Regions from separate parts of the Homo sapiens genome. Here regions 1 and 3 are each reported to be linked to region 2. Evidence: microRNA targets listed by miRTarBase, many of them from high-throughput screens and not tested one by one. Region 2 holds a microRNA gene; each other region holds the end of a gene's coding sequence.
What was found. Region 2 holds the annotated microRNA hsa-miR-1180-3p (UUUCCGGCUCGCGUGGGUGUGU, at 1,967-1,988, shown strand). A microRNA usually pairs through its seed, bases 2 to 8, with sites in the 3' UTR of a target mRNA and lowers its output. Matches are read on the target gene's strand: a 7mer-m8 pairs with bases 2 to 8, a 7mer-A1 pairs with bases 2 to 7 and ends in A, and an 8mer does both.

Region 1: the mRNA of GPI is a reported target of hsa-miR-1180-3p. The part of its 3' UTR that is shown has no 7-base or 8-base seed match.
Region 3: the mRNA of SRSF4 is a reported target of hsa-miR-1180-3p. The part of its 3' UTR that is shown has no 7-base or 8-base seed match.

What each region holds. Positions count from the first base shown.
Region 1 is chr19:34,399,579-34,403,733 of GRCh38, reverse strand. GPI (glucose-6-phosphate isomerase) reads right to left here. Exons shown (of 18, transcript NM_000175.5): 16 at 4,103-4,155; 17 at 3,949-4,015; 18 at 1,321-3,833. The coding sequence ends at 3,698. Among named protein-coding and RNA genes, the nearest start is that of PDCD2L, 2.7 kb to the left of the region's middle.
Region 2 is chr17:19,342,346-19,346,500 of GRCh38, reverse strand. It overlaps MIR1180 (microRNA 1180), which reads left to right and starts at 1,927; the gene lies at 1,927-1,995. B9D1 (B9 domain containing 1) reads left to right here. Exons shown (of 7, transcript NM_015681.6): 6 at 2,644-2,711; 7 at 3,040-3,326. The coding sequence ends at 3,182. RefSeq lists an enhancer at 611-905 and a silencer at 611-905.
Region 3 is chr1:29,145,130-29,149,284 of GRCh38, forward strand. SRSF4 (serine and arginine rich splicing factor 4) reads right to left here. Exons shown (of 6, transcript NM_005626.5): 6 at 2,614-4,097. The coding sequence ends at 3,281. Among named protein-coding and RNA genes, the nearest start is that of TMEM200B, 23 kb to the left of the region's middle.

The DNA.
Region 1 (4,155 bases), not on the chromosome of region 2:
TTGTTTTGTTTTTGAGACAGAGTCTTGCTGGGTCGCCCAGGCTGAAGTGCAGTGGCGCCATCTCACTGCATCTCAGCCTCCCAGGTTCAAGTGATTCTCCTGCCTCAGCCCCACCCAGTAGCTGGGGTTACAGACGCCCACCACCACGCCCGGCGCCCGGCTTTTTTTTTTTTTTTTTTTTTAGACGGAGTTTCGCTCTTGTCGCCCAGGCTGGAGTGCACTGGCGTGATCCCAGCTCACTGCAACCTCTGCCTCCCAGGTTCAAGCGATTCTTCTGCCTTAGCCTCCCGAGTAGCTGAGATTACAGGCATGTGCCACCATGCCTGGCTAATTTTGTATTTTTAATAGAGATGGGGTTTCTCCATGTTGGTCAGGCTGGTCTCGAACTCCCAACCTCAGGTGATCCGCCCACCTTGGCCTCCCAAAGTGCTGGGATTACAGGCGTGAGCCACCATGCCCGGCCTTTTTTGTATTTTTAGTAGAGACGGGGTTTCACCATGTTGGCCAGGCTGGTTTCGAGCTCCTGAAATCAAGTGATCTGCCCACCTCGGCCTCCCAAAGTGTTAGTATTACAGGTGTGAGCCACCGCGCCCAGCCACACAATACAGTTTTTTCAATTCCTGCAGCACAACATGGGTGAATTTCAAAAGCATCATGGGAAGAAGCCAGACACAAAAGGCGCCATTCTGGTAAACGCAGAACTTCGGAGGGAAAAAAATCAGTTCAATGGTAGTCAGGAGTTGGGATGAGGGAGTAGGACTGGACCACAAGTGTCAGGAACTTTTGAGGGTGAGGAAAATGCTGTATATCTCATCTGTAATGGTTCTAAGACTGTATATACACTTGTGAAAACTCATAACTGTATACCAAAGAAAGGTGAATCTTACTATATGTAAATCACACCCCAATAAACCTGACTTTTTAAAAATGCAGGCTGCAAAAACATTATTTTAGGATTCATAACGTGGTATGCAAAAGAAATGAATGTTTTCAAGGATTTACACCTCAAAGGAGGAAGCACCAGCCTTTGTGAGGTTTGGCTCTAGCCCAGCAAGGATCTGGAGATGAAACCCATTTACTCCTTTTTTTACCACACTTCATCCTGATAGCTTTAAAAGGCCCTGTGATGCTGGGCACAGTGGCTTGCGCCTGTAATCCCAACACTTTCGGAGGCCAAGGCAGGAGGATCTCTTAAGCCCAGGAGTTGAAGATAAGCCTGGGCAACACAGTAGTATTACCAGGGGAGGATCTTGACTACAAGTCGTCCAGGTTCTTGGAATATTGAACAAAGAGGTGGACAAAACACACAAAGCAACAAAAGAAGGAACAAAAGCACAGATTTATTGAAGCAAAAGTACATTCCAGAAAGCGGGATGAGGCTCAAGCAAGTGCCCTGTGTAGAAAATCTGGGGTTTAAGTACCCTTTAGAGGTTTCCTATTTGGTTACACCCTATGTAAATAAAGACTTGGCCTGCCACCAGTCAGAGGCTGAAGTGAATGCTCCTTTGTCTCCAGACCCTATTCTCTGGCCTCAGTGGGATCCTATCACTACAAAAATTTATTTTTTATTTTTCTTATTTTTTTTTTTTTACAACAGTACACTGATCTACAAAAATTTTAAAATGAGCCGGGCGCGGTGACTCACGCCTGTAATCCCAGCACTTTGGGAGGCCAAAGCAGGCGGATCATGAGGTCAGGAGATCAAGACCATCCTGGCTAACACGGTGAAACCCCGTCTCTACTAAAAATACAAAAAATTAGCCGGGTGTGGTGGCGGGCACCTGTAGTCCCAGCTACTCGGGAGGCTGAGGCAGGAGAATGGCGTGAAGCCGGGAGGTGGAGCTTGCAGTGAGCCGAGATCACACCACTGCACTCCAGCCTGGGCAACAAAGCAAGACTCTCAAAAAAGAAAAAAATTTTTTTTTAAATGAGCTGGGTGTACTGGCATGCATCTGCGGACCCAGCTACTTGGAAGGCTGAGGTGAGAAGATCACCTTAGCCTGGGAATTTGAGGCTTCAGTCAGCTATGATTGTATCACTGCAGTCCAGCCTGGGCAACAAAGACCCTGTCTCTAAGAAAAAAAAATTTTGAATAGGCTGGGTGTGGCGGCTCACGCCTGTAATCCCAGCACTGTGGGAGGCTGAGGTGGGAGATCTCTTGAGCCCTGGAATTCAAGACCAGTCTAGTCTGGGAAACACAGCAAGACCCGCCTTGCTGGGCGCGGTGGCTCACGCCTGTAATCCCAGCACTTTGGGAGGCTGAGGCGGGCGGATCACGAGGTCAGGAGATCGAGACCATCCTGACTAACACAGTGAGACACTGTCTCTGCTAAAAAAATATATAAAAAATTAGCCGGGCATGGTGGCAGGTGCCTGTACTCCCAGCTACACAGGAGTCTGAGGCAGGAGAATGGCGTGAACCTGGGAGGCGGAGCTTGCAATGAGCTGAGACCGTGCTACTGCACTCCAGCTTGGGCGACAGAGCGAGACTCCGTCTCAAAAAAAAAAAAGACCCGTCTCTCTACAAAAAATGAAAAAACTAGCAGGGCATAGTGGTACAACCTGTAGTCTCAACTACTTGGGAGGCTGAGGCAAGAGGATTACTGGCTGCAGTGAGCTGTGATCATGCCACTGCACTCCAGTCTGGGCAATGGAACAAGACCCTGTCTCAAAAAAAAAAAAAAGTTGTCAAAAAAAAAAAAAAAATGGGCCGGGCGTGGTGGCTCATACCTGTAATCCCAGCACTGTGGGAGGCTGAGGCGGGCAGATCACCTGAGGTCAGGAGTTCAAGACCAGCCTGCCCAACATGGTAAAACCCCTTCACTACTAAAAATACAAAAATTAGCTGGGTATGGTGGTGTGCGCCGTGTAATCCCAGCTACTCGGGAGGCTGAGGCAGGAGAATAGCTTGAACCCGGGAGGCGGAGGTTGCAGTGAGCCGAGATTGCACCACTGCACTCCAGTCTGGGTGACAGAGCGAGACTCAAAAAAAAAAAATTCCAGTTTTCAATATCTGCCTTTTAAAGCAAAAGAACTACCTGAGCGTCTTGCCAGGAGATGGCAGTCATCCTCGGTCTTGTCCAGGAATTCACCCGAAACAAACATAATCTCAATGCAGTTTTTAGAACCATCGAGTGAACAGAGTATCCAATTTCTGCAGTCACAGAGGTGAGGAGTGGAAAACAGTCTTGGGATTTGGTGACACAGGCCAAGTTGCCGTCCTGACTGATTGTGCCCCCACCCCACTATTGTCTTCTCAGGGCACCTTGCTCCACTCTAGACCCGCTCACCACTTAGTGTTAAGTGTCCGCAGAGGCACAGCCTGCGTCCTGCTGAGCGCTCCTGCCCTCTGCTACATAAAGCACCATCACAGGAAAAAAAAAATCAGAGGCTGAGCCTACAACCTCCTCCGTGGCATCTTTATTTTTCTACATGGGATGTGAACAACGTGAACATGGGTCAGAAAAGTCAGCTGCACAAAAACACTTCAGCCAATTCTAACACAGAGGGAGCATAGACATGGAGGGGCTGGGGGTTAGGCTGGGGGAGACCAGCCTTCCCTGCTAAGGGCTCGTGGTCCAAGCCCACAACCAGAGGGTGCTCTGGGTGGTGTCCAGGAACATGCAGTGCCGGCTCCGGGGAGGAGGGACGAGAAGAGAAAGGGGAGTCACAGAGGAGGCTGCAGATGAGCACGAGTTTATTGGACTCTGGCCTCGCGCTGCTGCTTGATGAAGTTGATGAGCCCATTGGTAGAAGCGTCGTGAGAGGTCACTTGAGCACTGCCATCAAGCTCAGGCTCTATTTTCTTAGCCAGCTGCTTTCCCAGCTCCACTCTGCCAAGAAGGGAAGGGAAGGGAAGAGTGGTATGAGGAAGGCTCTAACGTTGCTACTGAAATCCCTGAGCCGACACAAAGGTATTCCCGGCCCTCCCCTAAGTGAGCAACTCACCCCCACTGGTCAAAGCTGTTGATGTCCCAGATGATGCCCTGAACGAAGATCTTGTGCTCATACATGGCTGCAGAAGTGACAGACAGGGCACATCAGGGCTCCACAAGCCCATTCCAACCTACCCCAAGCCAGGACCTTTCCCCTACTCACTCACCGACCAAGGCTCCAAGCATGAATGGTGTGAGCTTGGTGAACACAATAGAGTTG
Region 2 (4,155 bases):
CGGCAGATTAGTGAGGCACAAGTGGAACATGGAGGACTCCCTGGGTTCCAGGGCAGCAGCCGGCAAGCAGCCCCTGCGAGCCTGGCCAGTACTGGGCGTGAGACCAGGCCAGAGCCCTGCTGGGTGGAGGGACAGCATCGCGCCCAGGGCCGAGAATGCTTCACTGAGCTCTGAGAGCCGTGGAGGGGAGGAAGGGCAGGGTCTCCGCTGGCCTCAGCCTGAGAATTTGTGTGCCTACTGCCCCTAGGAGTCCTTCTGGGAGGCCACCCTGTAGCAAAGGACTTCTTTCCCAGATGACCTGGGCCAGTATCACCTGGAGGTGACAATCCCCATGCCACAGGCTGTCAGGGAGGCAGCGAGGCAGTGCCCATCAGTGGGTTGGGAAAGCCTAAGAGACTGGGGACCCACACAGCCATCCAGGCTGGGTTATTCACCCTGTTCCACCGCCCACAGCTCCAAGGAGGACTTTGGGCCTCCAGGGGACAGCTCGCTGAGGAAAGGGTTTCACAGCCCCTGTGGAGGGGCTCGCAACTGGGCAAGGCAGTATGTGCTTGGATTACAAAAACTGGAGAAAGTTCTGATTAGTGAAGGCAGTTTGATTGGCAGAATCTTCCCAGATATGGAGGCTCCTTGCTCAGGCTGACACCTCGGTCATCCCCACCCCTCTCCCAGCCTCTCCCCACATCCTCCAGCGCTGGCCTAGGGCCTGCCCCAAACACTCTTGGCCACTGTATTCGTTTCCCACGGTGGCTGCTGCAACAAAACACACAAATGTGATAGCTGAAAACAGCAGAAATGTATGCTGAAGGCCAGAGTTCAAAATCCAGGTCACTGGGCCCAGAAAAGGCACCACAGGGCTGTGCTCCCTCCCAAGGCTCTAGGGGAGACTCTGTTTATTGCCCTTTCAGTTTCTGGTGGCCCCAGCCTTCCTTGGCTTGTGGCCTCATCACTCGAGTCCTGGCCTTTAGGGTCCACCTGGATAGTCGCCTCAAGATCCTTAGCCTAATCATATCTGTGCAAAGTGCACGTGACCCTGTTTCTCAATAAGGTCACGTGCACGGTTTCCCAGGACTAGGATCTGCTATCTTTGAGGGGCCGTCATTCAGCCTGCTGCCACCCCTCCAGTCTAGTCTTCACATAGCAAGAAAAACGGTGTTCCTAAAACACAACTGGGGCTGCACCCCTCCCCTGCTAGAACCTGTCTCTGTCAGAATGAACTTCAACCAGAATGCTGCCAGGCCGGTGGTCGGGCCCTGCCTACCTCATGGCCTCTGCCCACTTGCTTCCCATCTACCTCAGTTCCTGCAGTCTGAGGGGTCCTTCCTTGCCTCAGGTCCTTGCCTGGAATGCTCTCCCAGAACAGCCTGTCTTGTCTCCCCAACCCCAGCCAGCTAAGCAGACCACCCGGGTGGACCCCAGGAAAGAAATTCAGTGGGAACGGGAGCTCCATGTGAGCTCCGGGATGGGATCTGCTGGGCACAGTGGGGATGCTCCCAGGCCCCAGTCCTCATACATAGCCTCTTGTGAGGTGGGTGCTGTGAGAGTCTTGCTCTCCCAAAGGAGAAACTGAGGCGCAGGGGTTGTGGCTGCCCATCCCTTCCCCTTGGGGAGCGCCTGCTGGCTTTCACTCTCTGGCTCCCTCCTTGGGGTTGGGGGCTGGTGGGCAGTGCTCCCTGGCTGTGGTCTCCACAGGCCAACTCTGCGGCAGCTGAGAGCCCCTCCCTGGCCTGGGCCCCTCTGCAGCCGCCCCAGGTGAGCGCTGGTGCCCACCTCAGAGACGGAGAGGCCGCGGGGAGGGCGGTGCGTGGGCTTTTGGGTCGGCATGGTTGCCAGCGACCCTCGGGGCCGGGTGTGTCCGTGGGGGGACCTTGGGAGCTGTGGTACAGAGGAGGCGCGGCCGCGAGTCCCGGCGGGGCGAAGCCCGCGGCTGCTGGACCCACCCGGCCGGGAATAGTGCTCCTGGTTGTTTCCGGCTCGCGTGGGTGTGTCGGCGGCGGGGCCTGACACCCCCGGCCTCCTGGCCTCCCGCCTGGCCCAACTGGGGTCTGGGGCTGGGGAGGGCGCATGCTCAGCCTGGTGGCTGTGTGCCGCCCCTGGCAGGGCCTGCGGTGGGTGCCAAGATGGGAAGTGACATGTCCTGGACCCCACACTAGTGGGAGGTAAGGCTGAGGAGCCGTTCTGGCCCTTCTGCCCACCCCACAGACTCTCTGGGGTGGGACCCCCTTCCAGGGAGGCTGGAGGGTCACACTGTCCCCTCCCCTCCCCCACCTCAGCTGCTGTCACTTTTCTGGGATTTCTGGGGGTTCAGGTAGCACCCCCACCCCAGAATCTTCCTGAGCTCTCATTCCCAGTGAACCAAACCCATGGAAGCCAGAGATGGAAAAGCCTAACCGGCCAGCGGAGGCAGCGTGGCTGCAGAGCACATGAGGCCTGGCTAGGCTGTGTGACCTCGGCAAGGGACACCCCACGCTGGAGCCCAGCCACTGGGAAGGCTCTGCTTAGGGCCTGACTCCTGGTGGGGGTGGGGTGCGGTTGGAACAAGAGTGCTGGTTTCTGAACCGAGGAGAGCCCACATCCAGTGTCGTCCAAGACCAGGAATGCCCAGGTGGGGCCCTGCTCACCTGTGTTCTTCTGTGTTCCCAGCTGGTTCATGGGGCGGCGGCCCGAGTACACAGACCCCAAGGTGGTGGCTCAGGGTGAAGGCCGGGAAGGTAAAGCTCCCTCCCCTCTCTTACCCCCATCCCCCATACAGGTTACAGCCTGGGAGTGGGTGGGCCCAGGGTTGGGGTGAATGCCGGGGACCTGCCAGGCACATAGGAGCTAGCCCACAAATGTTCCCAGATGAGGGCCTGGTTGGAGCACAGAGGGTTTGTCATGTCTGCCTGTCCCGGCAGCCCCTTTACCTCCCAGTGAGGGGCTTGGGTCAGGCACTGTTGTCCCCATTTTACAGATGAGAACGCTGAGGCTGAGATTCCCAGATCAACCTGGGTCTCTCTCTGCCCCAGCCCAGCCTGGCTGATGCTGCCCTTCTGTCCCCAGTGACCCGTGTCCGTTCTCAGGGCTTTGTCACCCTCCTCTTCAACGTGGTGACCAAGGACATGAGGAAACTGGGCTATGACACTGGGCCTTCTGATACACAGGGTGTGTTGGGGCCCAGCCCACCCCAGAGCTTCCCCCAGTGAAGGCTCCACAGGCTGCACAGTCTCTGATAATGAAGGGCTGCCTTCCCGAAGTCAGCCGCTGCCCATCGGCCTGAGGGGCAGCCTGGTGGCCAGAGCTGGGGGCACACAGAATAGTTTTGTATAATAAAGTCTCATTTTCAGAGAGCCTAGGCCTGGGGCTGCCTTCTCTCCTGTTTAGCCCCTCCCCCACAGGAGCTGGGGGCTCTTGGGCCTTTCCTGGCCCCACCTCCAGGGCTCTCCCTGTCCCTACCCCTTGTGCCGTGGAAGCTGCCAGGAGACCAGACCGTGCAGCAGGATGGCATGTGGGATGGGAGCTTTGACATAACCAGGTTCTGCCACTCAAAGCTGTGTGGCCTTTTCTATACCGCAACACATTGTTCCTTGAACTAACTGGGCATGGCACCCTCCTTAGAGGCTTGGGGTTAAGTAGAATCACCCGTTCAGCCATGCTTCTGGCCACCAGCCTCCCTTGGCAAGGACAGAACCCTGTTATTGGGAGCTGGAATGGTGAGGTACCCCGGGGGATGGCAGACCCTCAGCCTGCCCACTCCCCTCTCTGCCCCCCTACCCACAGTCCAAGGATGGGGGCTGGAAACCTCTCAGAGGTGGGAGGCCGCTGGCTGGGGTCCAGCTTTCTGGCAGCCCCTTGGCAGGAGAGGAAGGTGAGCCCCCTGGCTCAACACCCTGACCTCTGAGGTTGTCCAGGCCCTTCTGGAAGCAGAGCCCCTTCAGCATTACTTTGGGAGGCCCTGACCCTGGGCCTCCCCACCTTCACAAGAACCCCTCGCACCTCACGAGGCAGCCCCAGGCCCTCTCTGCCCTGCCACTGAGCTTTCGGCAGACATGGTGCCCCAGCCTAGATACTGCCCTCAGCGGGATCCAAGAGAAACCACAGGCTCCTGGCAAACCCCCACCTCCCAGCCTCGCCCATGTTGCCCTGGACTGTCGTCATGGCACTTGCCCTGAGACCATC
Region 3 (4,155 bases), not on the chromosome of region 2:
GCCTGGCAAGTTTATTAAATTACATAAACATGCCTGATGCGGCTGCTCACGCCTGTAATCCCAACACTTTGGGAGGCCGAGGCAGGCAGATCACCAGGTCAGGAGTTCGCGACCAGCCTGACCAACATGGTGAAACCCTGTCTCTACTAAAAGTACAAAAATTAGCCGGGCGTGCCGGGCGCGGTGGCTCATGCCTGTAATCCCAGCACTTTGGGAGGCTGAGGCGGGCAGATCACGAGGTCAAGAGATCGAGATCTGCCTGTCCAACAATGGTGAAACCCCATCTCTACTAAAAATACAAAAATTAGCTGGGCGTGGTGGCACGTGCCTGTAGTCCCAGCTACTCAGGAGGCTGACAGGAGAGTCGCTTGATCCCAGGAGGCAGAGGTTGCAGTGAGCTGAGATCGTGCCACTGCACTCCAGCCTGGTGACAGTGCCAGACTCCATCTCAAAACAAAACAAACAAAAAAAACCTGAAAGAAACAAAATGCCGCAACAAACATCCCTATCCTTATAGGGATAAAATCGGAATAATAAATTATCGTCATCACTGGAGACCAGCATGAGATCCTCTGAGGCAGTGGGAATTTTACTGGTTAGGTTCATCACCTTGTCATGATGACACGAGAATGGGCCCAGAAAAAGGTTTGGGAAACTCTCCAGAAACTGAGTGAGGTTCCTTGGTTTGGCTGCCTCGTCTGTTTCTGAAATTACACGTTTTCAAAACTCAACTAATTTCCCCTGTCATCTTCCCCATTCCTCAGATGATGCCTCATCATTCTGTGACTGCTTCCGATAGCTCCTTTGCCAGGACATTTGCCAAGTCTTGCTAATCTTGCCTCTTCTGCTCCCTCCTATCATGGCTTTGATCAAGCAGGCCCCGTATCATCTGGGGTTGCATGCCCTGAACTATTGGGTTCCCTGCATCCAATCCTTCACAATGCTGTCAGGTCTAGAAGCATAACCCTACTCCCCGCACCCTCCTATTCAAATACCTTCAATGTTACCCAGTGCTTACAGGATAAAGGTCAAATTCCTCTTCCTGGTATCCATGGCCCTCTATGACACAATCCATTTTGTTAAACTCTAACTCTCCAGTATCAAACTCCACGTTTCCTGGGCACAGTACCCTGTGCTTTCCCAACTCCATGAAAGCCATGCTCACAGGCTTTCAATAGGAATGCGTCCCACCCTACATCCCCAAAAGGTTCAGCTTAAGTGCTACCTCTGATCCCAGATGAAGTTCTGACTCTGTTCTCTGAATATCCACTTTGCCTTCATCACTAGCAACTAGATCACAAACTCCAGGAGGGCAAGAGACACTCTACTTTCGTATTTCCAATGCATTCGAAGATTTTGGTCTATAGGAAGCAACAGGACAGTTGTTTTAAGCCTAGGGACAGCCCCCAACAAATTCACAGGCAGCAGTCAAGTGAATCTCCTTTCCCAAGATTTTGCTGCAGCATGTAATGAAAGCCCTCAAGCATCCTCCCTGCTGTGATGCCCCTCAACAGTCCCTCAAGGGCTGAGACCAGATTGGAACCACTGTACTTCTGGTACCTCCTAGAGAGCTAGGCCAAACAAGCAGTGGAAGAATAATTAGGACAAAAGTTATCCAGTAGGCCAGGCGCGGTGGCTCATGTCCGTAATCCCAACACTTTGGGAGGCTGAGGTGGGCAGATCACCTCAGGTCAGGAGTTCGAGACCAGCCTGACCAATATGATGAAACCCCGTCTCTACTAAAAATACAAAAATTAGCCGGAAGTGGTGGCATGTACCTATGATCCCAACTACTTGGGAGGCTGACAGGAGAATCACTTGAACCTGGTTGGTGGAGACTGTAGTGAGCTGAGACTGCACCACTGCACTCCAGCCTGGGCAACAAGAGCAAAACTGTCTCAGGAAAAAAAAAAAAAAAAAAGTCCAGTATAGTTTTTTCCCCCTGGTTTTTGATTAGTTCAGATCTTAATGTGATGAGATCATGATACCGCAGATTCATGGCAATTTCGACAAACAGCACAGAACTCTATATTCATGAACAACTCATCTGGTAATGCTCCAAGTTTCCAAACTGATTCATTCTTCATCAGCCTGGCCATACGTTTCTTAAGAGAAAGGATGATAAATTCCTCGGAAACCTGCCTTTATTCTGTTGGTGAGAAAAATCCTTTAGGAACGTGTTGGTTCCCTAAGATGGGTGATCCCAAGGAACAAAACAGTCATTACACATGAACTTTTTTTTTTTTTTTTTTTGAGACGGAGTCTCGCTCTGTCGCCCAGGCTGGAGTACAGTGGCGTGATCTCAGCTCACTGTAACCTCCACCCCTCGGGGTTCAAGCGATTCTCCTGCCTCATTCTCCTGAGTAGCTGGGATTACTGGCGTGTACCACCATGCCTGGCTAATTTTTGTATTTTCAGTAGAGACGGGGTTTCACCATGTTGGTCAGGCTGGTCTCGAACTCCTGACATTGTGATCCGTCTGCCTAAGCCTCACAAACTGTTGGGATTACGGGCGTGAGCCACCGTGCCCGGCCTACACATGAACTTTTTATGCTAAGAAAAGACATATCAAGATATATCAGAAAGTACAACTTCAATTCAAACACCATGAAATTTTGTCAAGCAAAAATAGTCTTTATTCAAATTTAATGGAAACAGGGGTCACTATACTTTGCAAGACGGGGAAAAATAAAATTAAAAAAAATTCTTTTCTTTTCTTTTTTAATATAAAACAATATAATCACAATACCAGAATATGGAACTCTACAGTTTATTTCCTATGGGTTACTGCAGGTATCAATTTTCCTCGACTGTGCTATTCACAACTTTGTTAAGTCCAAAAATATGAAACCAAAGTGGTAGGAAACTTAAGACTTAGCACTTTCACTAAATGGCATACATCGAAGGGCATCAATTCAAGAGCAAAAATGGTTGAACTCACCATACCTACCTATGTGGTCATTCCAGCCTTAGAGCCGTCCAGGTTACTGAGCTCCCTGTAGGAAAGGCCAGGCCTGAAAGCCAAGGCGTTTTGGATATTCTACTGTGGGCCATGAGTAAAAGGGGATTTTCAAAGAGAAAATTTTTTTCAGTCGAGCAGGAAGGCCTGGTGCCAGGAGGCTTTACTGAGAGGAAGCACTTAGATTTAACAATTATAGACACACCATTAGGGGAGTTAAAAATGTACAGCAGTGACATGTTCTACTCCAATCACTTGTGCTACGGCTACCAAACATGTACAAAAGACTTCTCGGGTAGTTCCAGCTGTGGCCATAGCCAGTTAGGACCTTGAGTGGGACCTAGATCTAGATCGGGAGGGCGATCTGGAAGCAGACCTGGATCTAGACTTGGACCGAGATCGGGTTTTTGAAGCTGACTTTGATCTGGAGCGTGATTCTGATGGAAGGTTTGGTTTCGATTTGGAATTGGATCTCGACCTGGACCGGGTCTCCTGATTGGTGCCAGCATTCTCACTCTCTCCTCGACCTTCCCTCTGGCTGGATTCAGACTTGGCATGTTCCCGCTCCTTTGACACGGAGCGGGATGGAGATCTGGACTGGGAGCGGTCAGTGTCTTCCTTCTTCTTCTTCTTGCTGCTGCCCGCCTTGCTGTCTCGCTTGCTGCCTCGCTTTCTGCTCCTCTCACTCTTGCTGCGGCTGCGACTGCGACTGCGGCTCTCCTCTCTGCTTCTCTTCCTGCCCTTCCTCTTGTCCTTGCTCTTGCTGCGGCTCCTGCTCCGGCTCCTGCTGCCCCCTTTGCTCCTGCTCCGGCTCCGACTCTGGCGGAGGCTCTTCTCCTGGCTCCTGCCCCTGCTCACACTCCCTCGCTTCTCCTCCTCCACTCTCCTCTCCTGACTCCTGCTCCGACTTTTGCTCTTACTTTTATGCCTGCTAGGACTCCGGCTCTTGGGTTTCCCGACATTGTCATTGTTTTGGATCTTCTCTTCAGCTTGGTCTTTGCTCTTGCTGCGGCTCTTGCCAGCGCTATGGCTGCGGCTGCGGCTCTTTTCCTTGCTGGGGCTCCTGCTTTTCTCTTTCTTGCTCCGGCTCCGACTCTGGCTCCGGCTCCGGCTCTTGCTCCGGGAGCGGGAGCCCGACCTGAGGAGACATGGGATACTGTTTGTGTCACATGTGACTTCATGCTAATCAGGAGATA